4 linked regions of the Homo sapiens genome follow. The protein of the gene in region 4 purifies or fractionates together with the protein of the main gene of each other region. This does not show direct contact. Each region holds a gene or a part of one and is shown on either strand. Other genes may lie near its edges.

What was found. Proteins that work in one complex are often made in the same cells at the same time.
Region 1: the proteins of HDHD5 (region 4) and MSRB2 purify together in Homo sapiens (affinity purification with mass spectrometry; one large-scale study listed by BioGRID and IntAct). This does not show direct contact.
Region 2: the proteins of HDHD5 (region 4) and NPTN purify together in Homo sapiens (co-immunoprecipitation; one large-scale study listed by IntAct). This does not show direct contact.
Region 3: the proteins of HDHD5 (region 4) and SPSB4 purify together in Homo sapiens (co-immunoprecipitation; one large-scale study listed by IntAct). This does not show direct contact.

The regions. Positions count from the first base shown.
Region 1 is NC_000010.11:23,102,079-23,105,940, forward strand, and holds part of MSRB2 (methionine-R-sulfoxide reductase B2, mitochondrial precursor), read left to right. Parts: intron 1-2,065; coding exon 2,066-2,166; intron 2,167-3,862. UniProt on the Homo sapiens protein: Methionine-sulfoxide reductase that specifically reduces methionine (R)-sulfoxide back to methionine.
Region 2 is NC_000015.10:73,623,028-73,626,889, forward strand, and holds part of NPTN (neuroplastin isoform b precursor), read right to left. Parts: intron 1-3,862. UniProt on the Homo sapiens protein: Probable homophilic and heterophilic cell adhesion molecule involved in long term potentiation at hippocampal excitatory synapses through activation of p38MAPK. May also regulate neurite outgrowth by activating the FGFR1 signaling pathway.
Region 3 is NC_000003.12:141,054,347-141,058,208, forward strand, and holds part of SPSB4 (SPRY domain-containing SOCS box protein 4), read left to right. Parts: intron 1-3,862. UniProt on the Homo sapiens protein: Substrate recognition component of a SCF-like ECS (Elongin BC-CUL2/5-SOCS-box protein) E3 ubiquitin-protein ligase complex which mediates the ubiquitination and subsequent proteasomal degradation of target proteins.
Region 4 is NC_000022.11:17,152,439-17,156,663, reverse strand, and holds part of HDHD5 (haloacid dehalogenase-like hydrolase domain-containing 5 isoform 2 precursor), read left to right. Parts: intron 1-4,225.

The DNA.
Region 1 (3,862 bases), on a different chromosome or scaffold from region 4:
AAATCTCATAGAGATGCAGTTCCTTTCTAGATTCATGTGCTCTTCCCCATCTCTCTCCCCAACACTGAGACACACACGCGCAAACGTACACTCACACACTCACACTTACTTATTTATATTTCTCTTGCTAAACCATTTGAGAGTTGCAGACATCATGACACTTTACTGCTAAATATTTCGGCATGTTTCCTAAGACCAAAGATGTTTTCCTACAAAACTGCAAGACAGTTTTCCTCTCAGGAAATTGAGCACCCTTGTCTAATACACAGTTGATATTCAAATTTCCCACCATATACCAACAATGTCTTTTATAGCTCTTGTTTTTTTTTCTGGGATCTAGAATTTAATAAAGGGTCACACATTGGTTTTAGTTGTGGACAGTCCTTCTTTTGAATAATTTCCCTCAATTTTCACTTATGTGATTTTTTCTTCATGAGACACTGATTGAATGTTTTCAGCAGGAAAACTTTACTGGTGATGTTGTGTCCTTTCCAGAGCATCACATCAGGAAGACAGGATGTCACTTGTCCCACTGTTGGTGATGCTAACTTAGCCTACTTGGTTAAAGTAGTGGCATTTTCTTTTTTGTAATTAATAAACTTTGGGGTTGTATTTTGAGAAGATGTGACTATCTGTTCCCCAGTAGTCTTTCACCCAGGGGTTTTAGAATCCTCTGATGATTTTTACAAAATGGTGATTTTAAAAATTCTATACTTCCTTCTTCATTTATTACTTGACATTCTGCGTGATAACTCTGAAGGCCATTGAGCAATAGTAATTATCACATAAATACATTTTGTTTTGTTCCCAAAGTGTCGAATACCCCAAAAATCATGTGTTAACTGAGGTATATTCCATAGGAATTTCAGAGATCTATTTTCATAGCAAAAAGAAACCCCTGTAGTCTTATAAAGATTGTATTTAATAAAAGATACCTCCTAGGGGAGCCCTTGTGTAAAAATAATAACAGTAATAAAAAGAAAGAAGAAAACTTTTAATATATTAAATAGCCTAAAAACCTTTTAGCAAAATGTAAGCAATCAACTATATGTATCACTGGAAATGCAGTATTGTTCAGTATTATAAACTGGAGAGGAGATAAGTCTTTTCTTGCCGAAGGATAATTTAGGACTTTTTTTGTAACCTAAAATGAATTTCAACTGTAACTTCTGACGTGTTTGATATATAGGTGCTGGCATCACGGGCATTCAACGTTTCATCTTCAGTGCCATAGTCAGATTACTAACCCTTTGGGCCTCTGTTTCTCATCTGCAAACTGAAGAGTTGGACACATTATAAAATCCTTTCAGATTCTTAATGTTGGATGATTAAAAACATTTATTATAGGAGTTGGGCTTCCTACTCCCTTTGGCTAAAGAGAGTATTGCTCTAGTTACTTGGTTTACACTCACGTGAATAAATGTAGTAATATAGATGCCAAGGTGAGTAGGAAAGAAGAAAACAAAATATGGACAAAAACCATGAAGCATCATAATAGATTATGGTAGGTCTGTTTCTCTTTCAGGACTATATGCTATGGGAGTTTCTTCTTTTGTTCCATGCAAGAAGATTTTTAAAATAGAGACCTCCCTTGACAAAGAAAATCAGAGATATCCTTATAAACTAGCAAGGGAGAAGAGTTTAATAACCGACTAGCTCACAGTTCTTTTCTGCCCAATGCCTCAACTACTTCTGGCTAGATTCTGACAGCAACTGCTCCTCTAAAAGTCATCAGAGAAGAGAGGATCAGTTTCTACCCTTAGGTACCCGAAGGGAATGTATTCCGCATTCTTTCATATTTCAGCTGCCTCTTTCACTTCTGTGCCCCAGGAAGACTAGAAAACTGGCTCTCTACTTCTTGTTAATTTCTTATTAAATTAAATAGTCAATGAAGGCATTTTGTGCCTGAGCCTTCTGGTCCCCATGAAGAATAAACTCGTGGGAGAGAGAGGAAGGGACTGGATTATTCTGCTGGGTGACAGTACACTTAGGGAAAAAGGTCAAGGAAGAAAAGTCCATCAGGCATTTTTGTTTTAATTTTTAAAATTCCTGTTTAACAATACAGGGTCTCTTGCAACGTGTGAGCTGCCTCTTGCCAAGAGTGAGTGGCAAAAGAAACTAACCCCGGAGCAGTTCTACGTCACAAGAGAAAAGGGAACGGAACCGGTAAGCTAAGCTGGTTTACAGTTTTCTGATTGCATGTGTTGGCAGTGAGGGGCCAGTTGGAATAGGTCCAGCTATGAAACCCAGCTGCCCAGCAACACTCCACAGGCCTGGTCTTCCTCTTCCATTGTGCCCTTCTCGGGGTGTTGATATCCATCGAGTTGTAGAAACCTGAAACTTTTCTCTGGACACAGCATCTCTATTCTGACTCCTAAATAACCTTCCTGTCATTTCACTTCCATGCACCGCTGTCACCTCCCCGTGGGGCCAAGTCACCATCACCTTCTCTGTGCATGGCCATTCTTGCTCCAGCCAACCCATTCTCCACACTGCAGCCAAAGAGTTCTTTGGAAAACACAGATCTGACCATATCACTCCCCAGCTCAAAACCTTTGGTGGCTGCCCAGTGCTTTCAAGGAAAAAGAAAAGTATGAGATGGCTAATAAGGTCCTAACGGCCCCTGGCTCCCACCCCTATCCTCAAATCCAGCCATCTTCCCTCTTGACACGGTACTTTGGCCACACCACCCTTGAGCTCTCACATGCCCTGGGCTCCCTTCTCTTTTAAGGCCTTTGCACCCAGCTTTCCTTCTTCTCTCCCGTCATCCCTCCCCACACTCTCCACCCATTCATTCAGACCTACCTTGTAGCTCTCGGCCCAAATCTCACTTTCTCTGGCAAACCTTCTCCTAGCCCCCAGCTAGGGTTGCTTCTAGCAGAACTCTTCCTTCATAGCATTTGCCATCACTGCTGTAACCCCTGGCACCTAACGTGGTGGCTGGCCTAGTAGGCATCCGAAAAATCAACTTTTGTGAATGTTGAATGACTGCCGGGTAAGAGGTGGAAACATTATTTAAACTGCATTTGGCAATCTCAGCTTTCATTCATTTTCTGAGAGAACAACCCTCAGTGGTTCTTCATTATAACACCACTTTTTACAGTGCTACATTTATCTCTCTCTCTCTGTGTGTCTGTGTGTGTGTGTGTGTGTGTGTGTGTGTGTATACAAGTTTCTGGGGTACTTGAGAAAATTTGTTACACATATATAATGCATAGTAATCGAGTCAGGGTATTTAGGGTGTCTGTCACCCGAATACAATACATTTTTGTTAAGTGTCATCCTCCTACTCTGCCATCAAACACTGAGTGTATTCCTTTTCTCTTACTGTATGTTTGTGGACTTTAAGCCACTCCTCTTCATCCTCCCCCTACCCCCTGCTTTCCAGGGTAGGAAACCCCCTTTCCAGGCTCTGTTATCCATTTTTCCACTCTCTACCTCCATGTGTTCAAATTCTTTAGCTCTCACATATAAATGAGAACATAGTGCCGCGTTGCTTAACAAGTGGTCTGTCTTAGACCCAAATATAGCTACTGGAATGTAGCTTTTTTGAATTGAACTTTGTTATTAGATATTTTTACTAGTGAAGCAGATCCCACAGAGTGGACCCCAGCCCTGTGGCTTCAAACATAGTAGAGTATGAATGTTTTTTCCTTTGTCAGCACCTGCAAAACTCATGTCACTACCCACATGCACTGCCATTGTAATCATGGTCTCACCCTCAGTTTTTCCAATGCTAAAGTCATCAGAAGGGCCAGCACATTCCAATAAAGTCCCCTGAAATGCTGGTATTTTTGAAAACTTCCTGTAGGCGGGATTTTACTAAAGCCCTTGTTGGGAAAGAGACTACATTAGCCATTTG
Region 2 (3,862 bases), on a different chromosome or scaffold from region 4:
CTTAGGAGTTAGGATGAAAGTGTCCTTTTCCAGGTTTTTAATAGCATACATTTACCATATAAAAGAAAAAGCTTAATTTCTAATGGCCAAAGGTTATACTTTTACTAGGTTTCATATAAAGTCTAACGGGCTCTTTATTATCTAGGCTTCTTTGTATTCAACACGTATTGGAAGGATTTCATAGTTTAGCTTTTTGATAACAAAAAGAAGTTGCTTCTGAAGGTTATAGTAAGCAAAATTCTGTTCTAATATCACAGGCAAGTCCTAAAAGCTACCTTAATGGATTCCAAAGTTAATCTACCATTTTACTTGGATTCATAATCATAGAAGTTTAGAGCTAGAAACACTAATTTCTGATCTTTAAAAACTTCTGGCTGGCAGGGGGGCTGTGGCTCATGCCTGTAATCCCAGCACTTTGGGAGGCACAGGCAGGAGGATCACTTTAGTCCAGGAGTTTGAGACCAGCCTGGGCAACATAGGGAGACCTCATCTCCACAAAAAATTCAAAAATTAGCCAGGCATGGAGGTATGCGCCTGTGGTCCCAGCTACTTGGAAAGCTGAGGCAGGAGGATCACCTGAGCCTGGAAGGTTGATGCTGCAGTGAGTAATGATCACGCCACTGCATTCCAGCCTAGGCAACAGAGTGAGACCCTGTTTCAAAACAAAACAAACAACAGAAAAACACACTAACTTTTGAAAAGTCCATTTCATTTCATATTCATTTCCATATTTTTCTCTCATTGAGCTTCTAAACAAGCACAGTACTATGTAAGAAAGAGATCATTTCTGTTTTTGAGTACCCTCTCAACCAGCTCTTTGTCCTACTTATAATGGTTCTGACGATGAGTGCAAATAACTCTATTCTTCCGCTAGTTTCATTAAAATCATCTTAATACTAAACCTATGCTTTCTTCCCTGTGCTCTAGGCCATTGCTCTTTGATACAGCCCATCCATCTTTGGAGACTGCCTAATTCCCTTACTTCATTTACACTGCTACCTTGAAAGTATTAATAGATAATCACATCCCCCTAGTGCTCCCTGTTCCTAAGTTTAGCTCCTTCAGGCTTTTCTCCTAAATCTTAAGCTACCATCAACATAGATTCTATGTCTCTTCCAAAATGTGGTTAGAAAGTATTCTTATTTGGAGTTCAATCCTAGTAGAAAACAGTAATGCTGTTAGGTTAGCACCATACTTTTGATACGTGATCACTATGTTATTTGTGTAAGGGTAATTCAATGACAGTTCACTGCAAGCTATTTGAAACCTCTTTATACTTGCTTTTTTCCAGGTAGCAGTTTCCTGGTTTGCATTAAGGCCATTTATTTCATCTCCCTTGATGCACGATTTGAGATTCAGCATTAATGAATATAATTTCAATGCTGGAGCTCCTTGTGCTATTTTTTTCCAGTTGTTCGGCAATGATTCCCAAACCTGCTAAACTCGTATAATCAAAAAAATCCCAAGTTAAATTTAACACATTCCTTCAATCTATGAATTTAGAAGTTTTTCACAGATAGTTGCCAACAAAGGAGGACATCTTGTTGCCTTTTTTTCCTCCAGGAAGCAGTGTCTAAAAACTAGGAAATAATCCCACTACTCTAGGATCTTAAACATGAACGGCAGATGATTCTTTAGTGATGGTTCTGCTTACCCTCTCTCTCTCTTCCCTTGGCCAGTATTCAAGTCAATCTGTACTCAACAGAAATGTGCCTCAGACTACAGCAACCAAGTAAAGCATTTGGCTTAGAATAAACATTAGTACTCCCAGCCCTGCAAACTCAAAGGCTCAGGAATAAGGAACACAAGGTCTAATTTAAAAGGAAGGTCAACTGAATATACTGGAAAAGTTATGTCTTGATTATATTCAAATTACTGTGGCTTCCCCTTTTTCTAAAGTTCTAAAAGGAAAAAAAATCGCTATATATAATGGCTAATGTATAAATCCAAAATGTTTTATTTTCTTTACTCATAATGACTAATAACAGTATATGCTGATATTACTGATAAATGTCTAGTGAAAATCCTTGTGTTAACAAAAATCATAATTATTCCAGACTAACATGGCATGTAAAAAATAAACAAAAGCCCCAAACTACTCCATACCTGAAAATGCTGTTTTTCAAACTGAGTTTCACGGCCCATGAATTGTGAATTCAATTTAGAAGGTCACTATGGTTCTCTTAACTACCTCACACAGATTAATAATAGGTAATGTTTCACAAGATATTACATATTTGTGTAATTTTGTTATAAATTTCTATTAGTCAAAAACTACTTCTCTATCTGGGTCACAGACAAAAAAGTTTGAAAGCCTTTTTCTAAAGAGCTTTTTTTTTTTGAGACGGAGTCTGGCCCTGTCACCCAGGCTGGAGTGCAGTGGCATGTTCTCGGCTCCCGGGTTCACGCCATTCTCCTGCCTCAGCCCCGAGTAGCTGGGACTACAGGTGCCGGCGACCACCCCTGGCTGATTTTTTGTATTTTTGGTAGAGATGGGGTTTCACCGTGTTAGCCAGGATGGTCTCGATCTCCTGACCTCGTGATCCGCCCACCGCAGCCTCCCAAAGTGCTGGGATTACAGGAGTGAGCCACCGCGTCCGGCCAAGAGCTTTATTTTTCAAGTAATTTCAACATGATTACATGTGAACCAAATATTATCTTTTACTCATATAAACTAACCCCTACTGACTACATTTCAGGTCCTAGAAAATTCTAGTTTGCAATGTAATTTTTAGGTTATTTTTAAATTAATAAGTAGCAAGGGTGTAGCTGAAACTAGATGATGAATACACAGGGGTTTATTCATTACTTAATCTATTTTTGTACATGTTTGAAATTCTAAAGATCTAAAAGAAAAAAAGGAAAAGAAATGGACCTAACAGATAACAAAGTAGTACCATGAATGTTTACAACTTGAGACCTTTAAACACAATGTTTCTAAGGAATAACAATCAAGGAACTTGCTAGGATTTAATTCAGTTAACACTTGGGGTTGCCTTCTTCGACTATAATGGACGGATTTCCAGGTCTTAAAAAATGCATAAGGGACTGCAGAAACTAACTCATATATAGAAAACAAACTTTCTCGAAAGATAACATAAAAATACAAATAGTTAAGTGTGTTTCATTGTCTCTTTATTAGTCAACCACTTTCAGCCAACAGAAAGATCATAAAATACCTACCTACCTGGCAGGAATATTCACTTCTTTATTCACACTGGCAATTTTCCCAGCAAGTTTAATATAAGATCTCTGCATAACAGACACGGTTCTGCCTCCCTTGAAACAAGAACTGCAAGGGTTGTCTGAAGTAGATTTAGAGGCATTTAGATTTCAAAACAGTGCATGCCTCAAAGTTAATTTTCATTATATTCAAAAGTAAGTTTCTAAAAACTTTTAAACAGAAAGTGTTATCATCTCTGAGCCTTTAACCTATTGGAGACAGTATCTAAGCTATAAGGGCAAGATATTTAGTAATTTTTAGAACTGAAAGGAAATTTAGACATCATCTAGTCCAATGGTTTCCAAATCCTACCATCAGGAAGAAAAGAATCTCAAAGGCATAACAATTTATATATGCAAAACAAACTCTTACTTGTGTGTTTTCCTGTATCTTCCTGCACATGAAATACTATGCCTTATTAGTATTCTATCAGGAAAGGATGTGACATTTCGTTATGCATTTTATATTTAATCACATTTAGTATGTGAGTATCCATTTAGATATGATTAAAACTATTGGTACGATTTGGGACTTAATGCTTTCTAATTATAGAAACTTACATAATATATCCAACCCTAATACTTTCAGAGTGATTTCATACCATCTCATTTATATTTCACTGTCTAGTAAATTTGAAGT
Region 3 (3,862 bases), on a different chromosome or scaffold from region 4:
ATAGTATGTACTCTTGATTTATGTGAACATGACCATCTGTGGTAAGAAAAGATCAACTATAAAAAATTTTTAAACCAGCAACACGTTTTTAATAAAACATGGTTCCTACATAAGCCAACTAATTTATTTGCTGCTGATCAGTTCAAGAAATAGGGATTTGTTTTGAGGCTATAGGAAAAACAGTTGTGGGTGGTGTGCCCTTTGGGAAAGAGGTGGTATACCTCAAACCAGTTATCATGAACTTTGTGTGGAACTTTAGAAGAACTTTCCTAAGCAGTGTTGATTGCATGTGATTTTTGCTTCACACATTGAGTTCAGAACTTACTCCATTTAAAATGTATACGTGTGGTGGTTCATGCCCGTAATCCCAGCACTTTGGGAGGCCGAGGCGGGGGGATCGCAAGGTCAGGAGATCGAGACTATCCTGGCTAACACAGTGAAACCCCGTCTCTACTAAAAATACAAAAAATTAGCCCGGCGTGGCGGCTTGCGCCTGTAGTCCCAGCTGCTGGGGAGGCTGAGGCAGGAGAATGGCATGAACCTGGGACGCAGAGCTTGCAGTGAGCCGAGATGGCACCACTGCACTCCAGCCTGGGCAACAGAGCGAGACTCCGTCTCAAAAAAAAAAAAAAAATGCAAACCATGCAGGAGGTATAGAGTGGCTAGTCCTTCTTCAGTCTGACAAGCACGTCTTAATGCAGCCAGAGGTAACAGGTACAAGGCTGTGTACGAGTATTGGAGATAAAGGCTGGTTGGGCACTGGCTCCATTAAGAAATGCAGATGTGGTGCAAGAGATAGCAGCAGGAATCAACAGCTAAGATGAAGACAAAGTGGGTTGGAGGGCAGAGGGTGCAGTGGGACGTAGGCAAGAGGACATAATGGGGCGGAGGGAAGAGGATGTAGTGGGCTGAGGGGCTGCCACGGAGGGGTGCCCAGTTCTGCTTCTGCTAGAAGGGGCAGGGGAGTGAGAGAATGTCAGCCAGGTCAGAGAAGATGGGAAGAGTCCCAGGATGTGCTGACGAGGAGAGTCTGGCATGACTGGTCTGAGGTGGGCCGTGATGACAGACAGTGTGGAAGAAATAAGAGCAGCCTGGAGGGCCCCTGGGTGCCAAGCAAAGAGGTGCAGCTTCTCTCTGGAGAAGCTGCCTGGAGGGTTGAATGAAGAGATTGGTGGGTGTCTTGGTCCAACTTACCTGTTGGCAGCATGGAGAGTGGGTTGGCGGGCAAACAGTGGAGTCAGGGAAGCCTGCTAAGAGACCAGTGGAGTAATCCAGGCAAGTTCTGAACTAGGGGAAAGCTGACGGGGTTGAGTGGTGGGGACCAAGAGACGGGATCCATGGCAGGAACAGTGACATGCAGAGGAACCTGGCATGTGAGAGAGGGAAGAGGCCAGGCTCAGCCTAGGACCTGCAGATTCCGAGGTGCACATGGACCACAGATGTCCCGCAGGGCTGAGAGTGTGGGTGTGCCCATGGTAGGAGGCTTATGATGGAAAGAGGTCAGCTGGCCTTACAAGGTCATTTGAAACAACACCCAGGCAGGGCTGACCAGGGGCTTCTAGTAGGTAGGTCTTGTGCTGAGGAGAGAAGGCAGCACTGGAGACCCGGCTTGAGAGTGTCTGCACGGGGCTGGAGATGCAGGTCATAAGAGAAGATGCATGGAGAGAGAGAGTGAAAAGCGGAAACTGAAGTTGAAGCAATGGACTTGGGGGTGCCCCATTGATGGGGTAGGCAGGAAGACATTGGAGCCAGGAGGAGGCAGGAAAGCTGCTGTGGTAAGCTCTACACTTCAATGTGCTGGTATGTGTGGTGGGAGACGCTGGAGCAGTGCCAAAGTCATCCATCTGACCTTTAATGTTGTGAAATGTCATGTATGGTGAACTGGAGCTCTGCTTTCTCCAGAAGTGAGTGGGCCTTGGCCCGGTTTACTGGCCACAGAGACATTCTACCTGTTATCTACCTTCAGGAGACATCTACCTGTTATCTGCATTCTATGAAATGTGCAAGTTGTACAGATTCCTGGGGCTGGAGCAGCTCCCTCCCCGATCCTGCTCCCTTTCTCCTCTCTTCCTCTCATCCTCTCTCCTTTCCTCCTTAGTATCTCAAAAATGCCCCCAGAGATACTGTAGGCTTAACAGAGGGATCTTCAGAAATCCCAGCAGGTCCCTATTATGACCTGGCTCAAGCCAGAGGCATGAATAGTTCTGCTTTTCTTTTAGGCATTCTGTTTCCAGACAACCAGTTATACCAAGTGGAGAAGGTTCATCTTGGGAGGTAAATGAGGGATTGGACGCAAACCTTATCATGTTTTCATCATCGTTTTCCCCAGAGGGCTTCATTAAATGGTACCCTTCCCATCTTCTCCCTTCATGCTTTGACCCAGCCCAGACATGCTGGGCCTCAGGGAATCCAGCTGCCCTGCAAACAACCTCCACATGTGCCTGGGGCAGGCCTCTGGGCTCAGGGGCAGCTGTGGTGACCGGGCTGGCCCGGACTGCACGTGGCCTTGCTGTCTCAGTGGTATGTCTCTTTCAAATGACCTTGCAGAGCTTGCTGCCCTGGTCACAGCCTAGCAAACCTCCTTCATCCCATTTGCTGCTCTCCTTGCTGGCTGACAGCCCAGCTTGCACCTTGGGGGCCCCTGGCTCAGTCACGCGTGGGAGGATTCCCATGGAAACCCCAGGAGGAGGAGAGGCTCAGGGAAGCCTCATTGATTCTCGCTCCAGGAAAACAGGCGTGAGATGATTCCACCTGGAACTGGACAGATGGCTCTCTTTGTGAGCTCTTGGGGAAGAAAGGGCTTGCCCAGCCAGTTGTAGCCTGAGCTCCATGTGTGTATAGCAGGGAAAAGCTAATGAATGCCTATGAACAAAACCTTGGGGGTTCTTTAGTTCATTCATTGTTGGTGGGTTCATTCTGAATGAGCATCTTTAATAAAACAGCCTCCCTACTTAATATTTGCACAAGAAAAATCTTAAAAACATTCCAGTTAAACTAAGGTCAGGCACCTATCATTGGTACCTTTGCACAGAGTCAAAAATTGAAAAATAAAGACATGAAATAAATAGTCTGAGCTCACAGTGCTCTGCATTCCCAGTTCATTCTTAAGTGTTGGTTCTTTCTAAGGCAGTGTATTGCTTTTCTTCATTTGTTCGTGCTCGTGCATTCCATAGACGTTCACCCACCACTTTCTCTAAGCCAGGTCCATGGGGACTCTGATGAGGGACACCCGGCCCCTGCTCCCAAGTTGCCCCAGTCCGATGGGAGGGAGGCAGCCAAAGAGACATCATGTCCCCTTGTGATAAGAGCTGTGGTGGGCACAAGTACAAGGGCTCTGAGAGCACAGGGGGCTGGGGAGCTCCCCAGAGGCACTAATATCTAATATCCTGAAAGCCTCAGAGAACCTGTCGAGGATTTTGAGCAGGAGCGTGATTAGATCAACTGTGTACTTTTACAAGTGCAGTAGTATATATTTGAAAGTAATATGCAGTCTATAAAGGAATTCCAGTGGTATCTAACTGGATTTCTTTTTACAGTCTTTGTCATTATTCAGATCTCTCGTGGAGTCTGACCCCTTTGGTGTAGGCTGTCTCCCTAAGGGAAAGTGGTTGAGTCTTATGCTTTTCAGCAGCCTGAGATCCCCAGGGCAGGCATCATTACTGCTGGCTAGATGAAAGAAGGAGACTTGCCCCCACCTCTGGCTCCAGCAAGTCCAAAGCCAGAGGCCACACAGAGAGAAGGGCATTTCACGCAGTCACTACCAATCCCCACAGCAGTCATGTCTTCTTGCAGACCCCGTGCCTATTGAGCTCAGCTAGACAGGCCTCTGTGGCTGTGATTTTGGGTCCCAGGCCTCTGAAGA
Region 4 (4,225 bases):
ACTGGGAGTATAGGTGCCTGCCACCACGCCTGGCTAATTTTTTGGATTTTTAGTAGAGATGGGGTTTCACTGTGTTAGCCAAGATGGTCTCGATCTCCTAACCTCGTGATCTGCCCTCCTTGGCCTTGCAACATGCTGGGATTACAGGCAGCTTTTTTCTATTAAAAAAAATTACAGGTGTGCACCACCACGCCCGGCTAATTTTTTGTATCTTTGGTAGAGATGGGGTTTCACCATGTTGGCCAGACTGGTCTCGAACTCCTGACCTCATGATACGCCCGCCTTGGCCTCCCAGAGTGCTGGGATTACAGGCGTGAGCCACAGTGCCCTACCTTAAAAAAAATTTTTTTTTTTAACTTTTGTTAAAAATGAAGACACAAACACCTACTAGCCCAGGCCTACATAAGGTCGGGTCAGGTAATTGATATCACTGTCTTCTGCCTTCACACCATGTCCCATTAGAAGGTCTTTAGGGGGCAGTCATATGCATGGAACTGTCATCTGCGATAACAGTGCTTTCTTCTGGATATCTTCTGAAGGACCTCTCTGAGGCTCTTGAGGTGTCACTCTTATCAGAAATATGTCCATTGTGGTTTGCTTGGTTTCTTTTTTTTTGTCATAGGTTTGCTTGTAAACAGATAATGTACCATAAACATTCTTCTCTAGTAATGAAAACCTTTTGGCGTTGGAGTTCATGTTTCAGACTTTTTAAGGAACTTGAGGTCTGTAAAAGCTGCTGAACCCTTCACTGTGAATTTTCTTGGATGTTCTTTTCTTTCTGTGGCTACCTTTTCTCTTGCCTCTTCTTCAGCTATGAGTTCCTGTTCCATTATAATCTTAAGGGACCATTGTATATGCAGTGTGTCATTGACTGAAACATCGTTATGGTGCGTGACTGTATTACCATCTTGCATTAGTGTGGTACATTTGTTATAATTGATGTACACCTTCACTTTTTATGGTACTGGGTGCCTGGTTCTCTGTGTACATCCTGAAGGTTGGGGAGGGGTTGGAGTGATGGGTGAGGGAGCCTTATGGATATTGCTCAATTTTCCTGAAAACTTTGCTGTTCTAAGTAGCAGGGGCTATGGATTCTTATTTTTAAGAAAGCAGATCTTGGGCCGGGCGCGGTGGGTCATGCCTGTAATCCCAGCACTTTGGGAGGCCGCGACGGGCGGATCACGAGGTCAGGAGTTTGAGACCAGCCTGGCCAATATGGTGAAACCCCGTCTCTACTAAAAATATAAAAAATAAGCCAGGTGTGTTGGCGCGCGTCTGTAGTCCCAGCTACTTGGGAGGCTGAGGCAGGAGAATCACTTGAACCCAGGAGGCAGAGGTTGTAGTGAGTCGAGATTGCACCACTGCACTCCAGCCTGGGTGACAGTGAGACTCCGTCTCAAAAAAAACCAACCAAACAAAAAAAAAAAAAAAAGGAAAGCAAATCTTGTGACTGTTTAGGCAATGACCGTTAAAACTATGTATGGTAAATTTTGCAACCATTGTACAAATGAGCTGTTTTTTAACTATGTAAGTTTTCAAAAATTCAAAAATGGGGAATAATATGAACCCCTGTGCCCATCTCCCAGATTGAGCAATGATTAACATTTTTCAACACCTGCTTTGCTTATCTCCCTCCTCCTTTTTTTGTGGCTCTAAGATTTTAAAGTAAATCTCTGATTTCTTGTCATTTCAAACCTAAATTCTTCTGTGTGTACCTCTAAGAAAAATAAGGACATTCTGGCTGGGTGCCATGGCTCACACCTGTAATCTGAGCACTTTGGGAGTTGGAAGGATTACTTGAGCCCAGGAGTTCCAGACCAGCCTGGGCAACATAGGGAGACCCTGTCTCTACAAAAGAAAAAAAAAAAAAAATTAGCCAGGCATGTGGTGGCACATACTTGTAGTCCCAGCTACTTGGGAAGCTGAAGCAGGAGGATCCTTTGAGCTCAGGAGGTTGAGGTTGCAGTGAGCTGAGATGACACTAGTGCACCCAGCCTTGGTGACAGAGTGCGACCCTGTCTTGTCTCAACCAAAAAAAAAAAAAAAAGAAAATAAGGACATTCTGAACATAACCACGATGCCAGTATCATACCTAACAACATTAGTAATTCCTTAATATCACTTAAAATCTAGGCCTTTTAAAAATTTATTTATTTATTTTTTGTTTTTATTTATTTATTTTTTGAGATGGAGTTTCCCTCTTGTTGCCCAGGCTGGAGTGCAACGATGTGATCTTGGCTTACTGCAAACACCATCTCCCGAGTTCAAGCAATTCTGCCTCAGCCTTCCGAGTAGCTGGGATTACAGGCATGTGCCACCACGCCCAGCTAATTTTGTATTTTTAATAGAGACAGGGTTTCTCCGTGTTGGTCAGGCTGGTCTCGAACTCCCAACCTCAGGCGATCTGCCCACCTCGGCCTGCCAAAGTGCTGGGATTACAGGCGTGAGCTACTGTGCCCAGCCAAGTTTCTTAAAGAAACACTGTTTCTTAAAAAAATTGTTGGCTGGGCGCGGTGGCTCACGCCTGTAATCCCAGCACTTTGGGAGGCCGAGGTGGGCAGATTGCCTGAGGTTGGGAGTTGGAGACCAGCTTTGAGACAAGACTAACCTGGGGAAACCGCATCTCTGCCAAATACAAAAATTAGGTGGGTTTGGTGGTGCGCACCTATAGTCCCAGCTACTTGGGAGGCTGAGGTGGGAGGATCGCTTGAGCCCAGGTGATGGAGGTTGCGGTGAGCCAAGATCACGCCACAAAAAAGTGTTGGAATCACCCAGTCCTTAAGGGACTTACTTTCTAAGAGCCACTCTTTTCCTTCAGAAAGGGATAGGGTGGTCGGGAAGTATCTATTTCTCCCTAACCATTTATCCTTTGGGTCATTCAGCATCCAGTCAGCCTTTGTCAATCACCTGTGAGTCTAAGCACTGTGTCAGGTATGGGGGTAAAGGGCAAATCACATCCCCTCCTCCCTTTAAGCCCAGGTAGTGATTCTCCTTGAGAAGAATAAGAAAATGAAATCCGAAAAGTGCTATGGTTACTTTTCCCAGGAAAAATGCTTGTAGTGTTTAAAGGGGATTTATGGCCATCCTGAAATCTATCTGTGGGCCTAGGTTAGGACCCCCATTCTAGTGAGATTTCTTGGGGAATAGGGAGGGGCTCCAGGGATCCTTGAGGGTACATGAGTGTATTGAGGAGAGAGAAGAAATGGAACTCACAGCTGGGAGCTGGCAGGAGGTGGGGGAAGCAGTCCTGGGGTCCCCTGTTTTCTCTGAGGTGCTGCCGAGTTGCCAGCTGAATTTGAGACTGAATCCTGAATCCAGCACTTGTGAACTGGGTGACCCTTGCTGAGTTCTTTTTGAGGTTGATGCCTTATTTGTCCAGTCAGGTAATTTAGTGCCTGTATATTGAACACCTTGTATAAACCGGCACATTTTGCCAGGCAAGGCCATTTGGAGATGCTGACACTTCCTCAAAGGGCTGCCAAAAAGAATACATAAAAATGCCTTTGTTACATGTCTGGCTGAGTGCTTGGGACAGTGACAGGTCTGGGTGCAACAGCATAAGCCTGTGAAGCCAAGGGTTAGAGGCACCATTTGTCCAGGCATTTCCTGTGTGGCGTGTGGGGCTTGGTCAGTTTTCTCTTGGCAGCTGTTTTTTGGTGTTCAGGTGTGATATCTTGTTGGCTCGAGTTGCTTCCTCCTGTTTTTCCAGGGTCCCTGCCCTCCTCCTGCTTGGCTCTGTAGCTGTCATTGTCCAAGCTTGGAGGGCTCATGTACAAGCTAACATGGAGGAGGAGCTGGAAGATTGCCTCTCCCGGGGGTCTTGCCTGTTCAGTGGAAAGAAGATGGGATCATTACAGCCACTCCAGTCCCTGTTTTACTGGACCCGAGACATACCTCAGCTTCCTGGACCCCACACGCTCTTGGTTTTCCTCCTTGCACTGTCTTTTGCTGGCAGGTCTTGTGTGGTCCATTATTAAGTAGTATTGTTCTTCCTGGTTCTCTGAGAGGCGAGACCTTCCAAAATTTTCATCTCCAGGACCTGTCCAGTGCTGATGTCTCCACTTGCCTGTCTCCCAGGTCCAAAGTGGGACTTAACCTTGTATCCTCCAATGACCTCTCGCTGCCCGCTCCTACTGTGCCCTTTGGTTCAGTGACTCATACCCGCATCCACCCTCCCGGGTTCCCAGACCAAAATAAAAAAGCATGGGAGTCCGTGTGGCTCCCT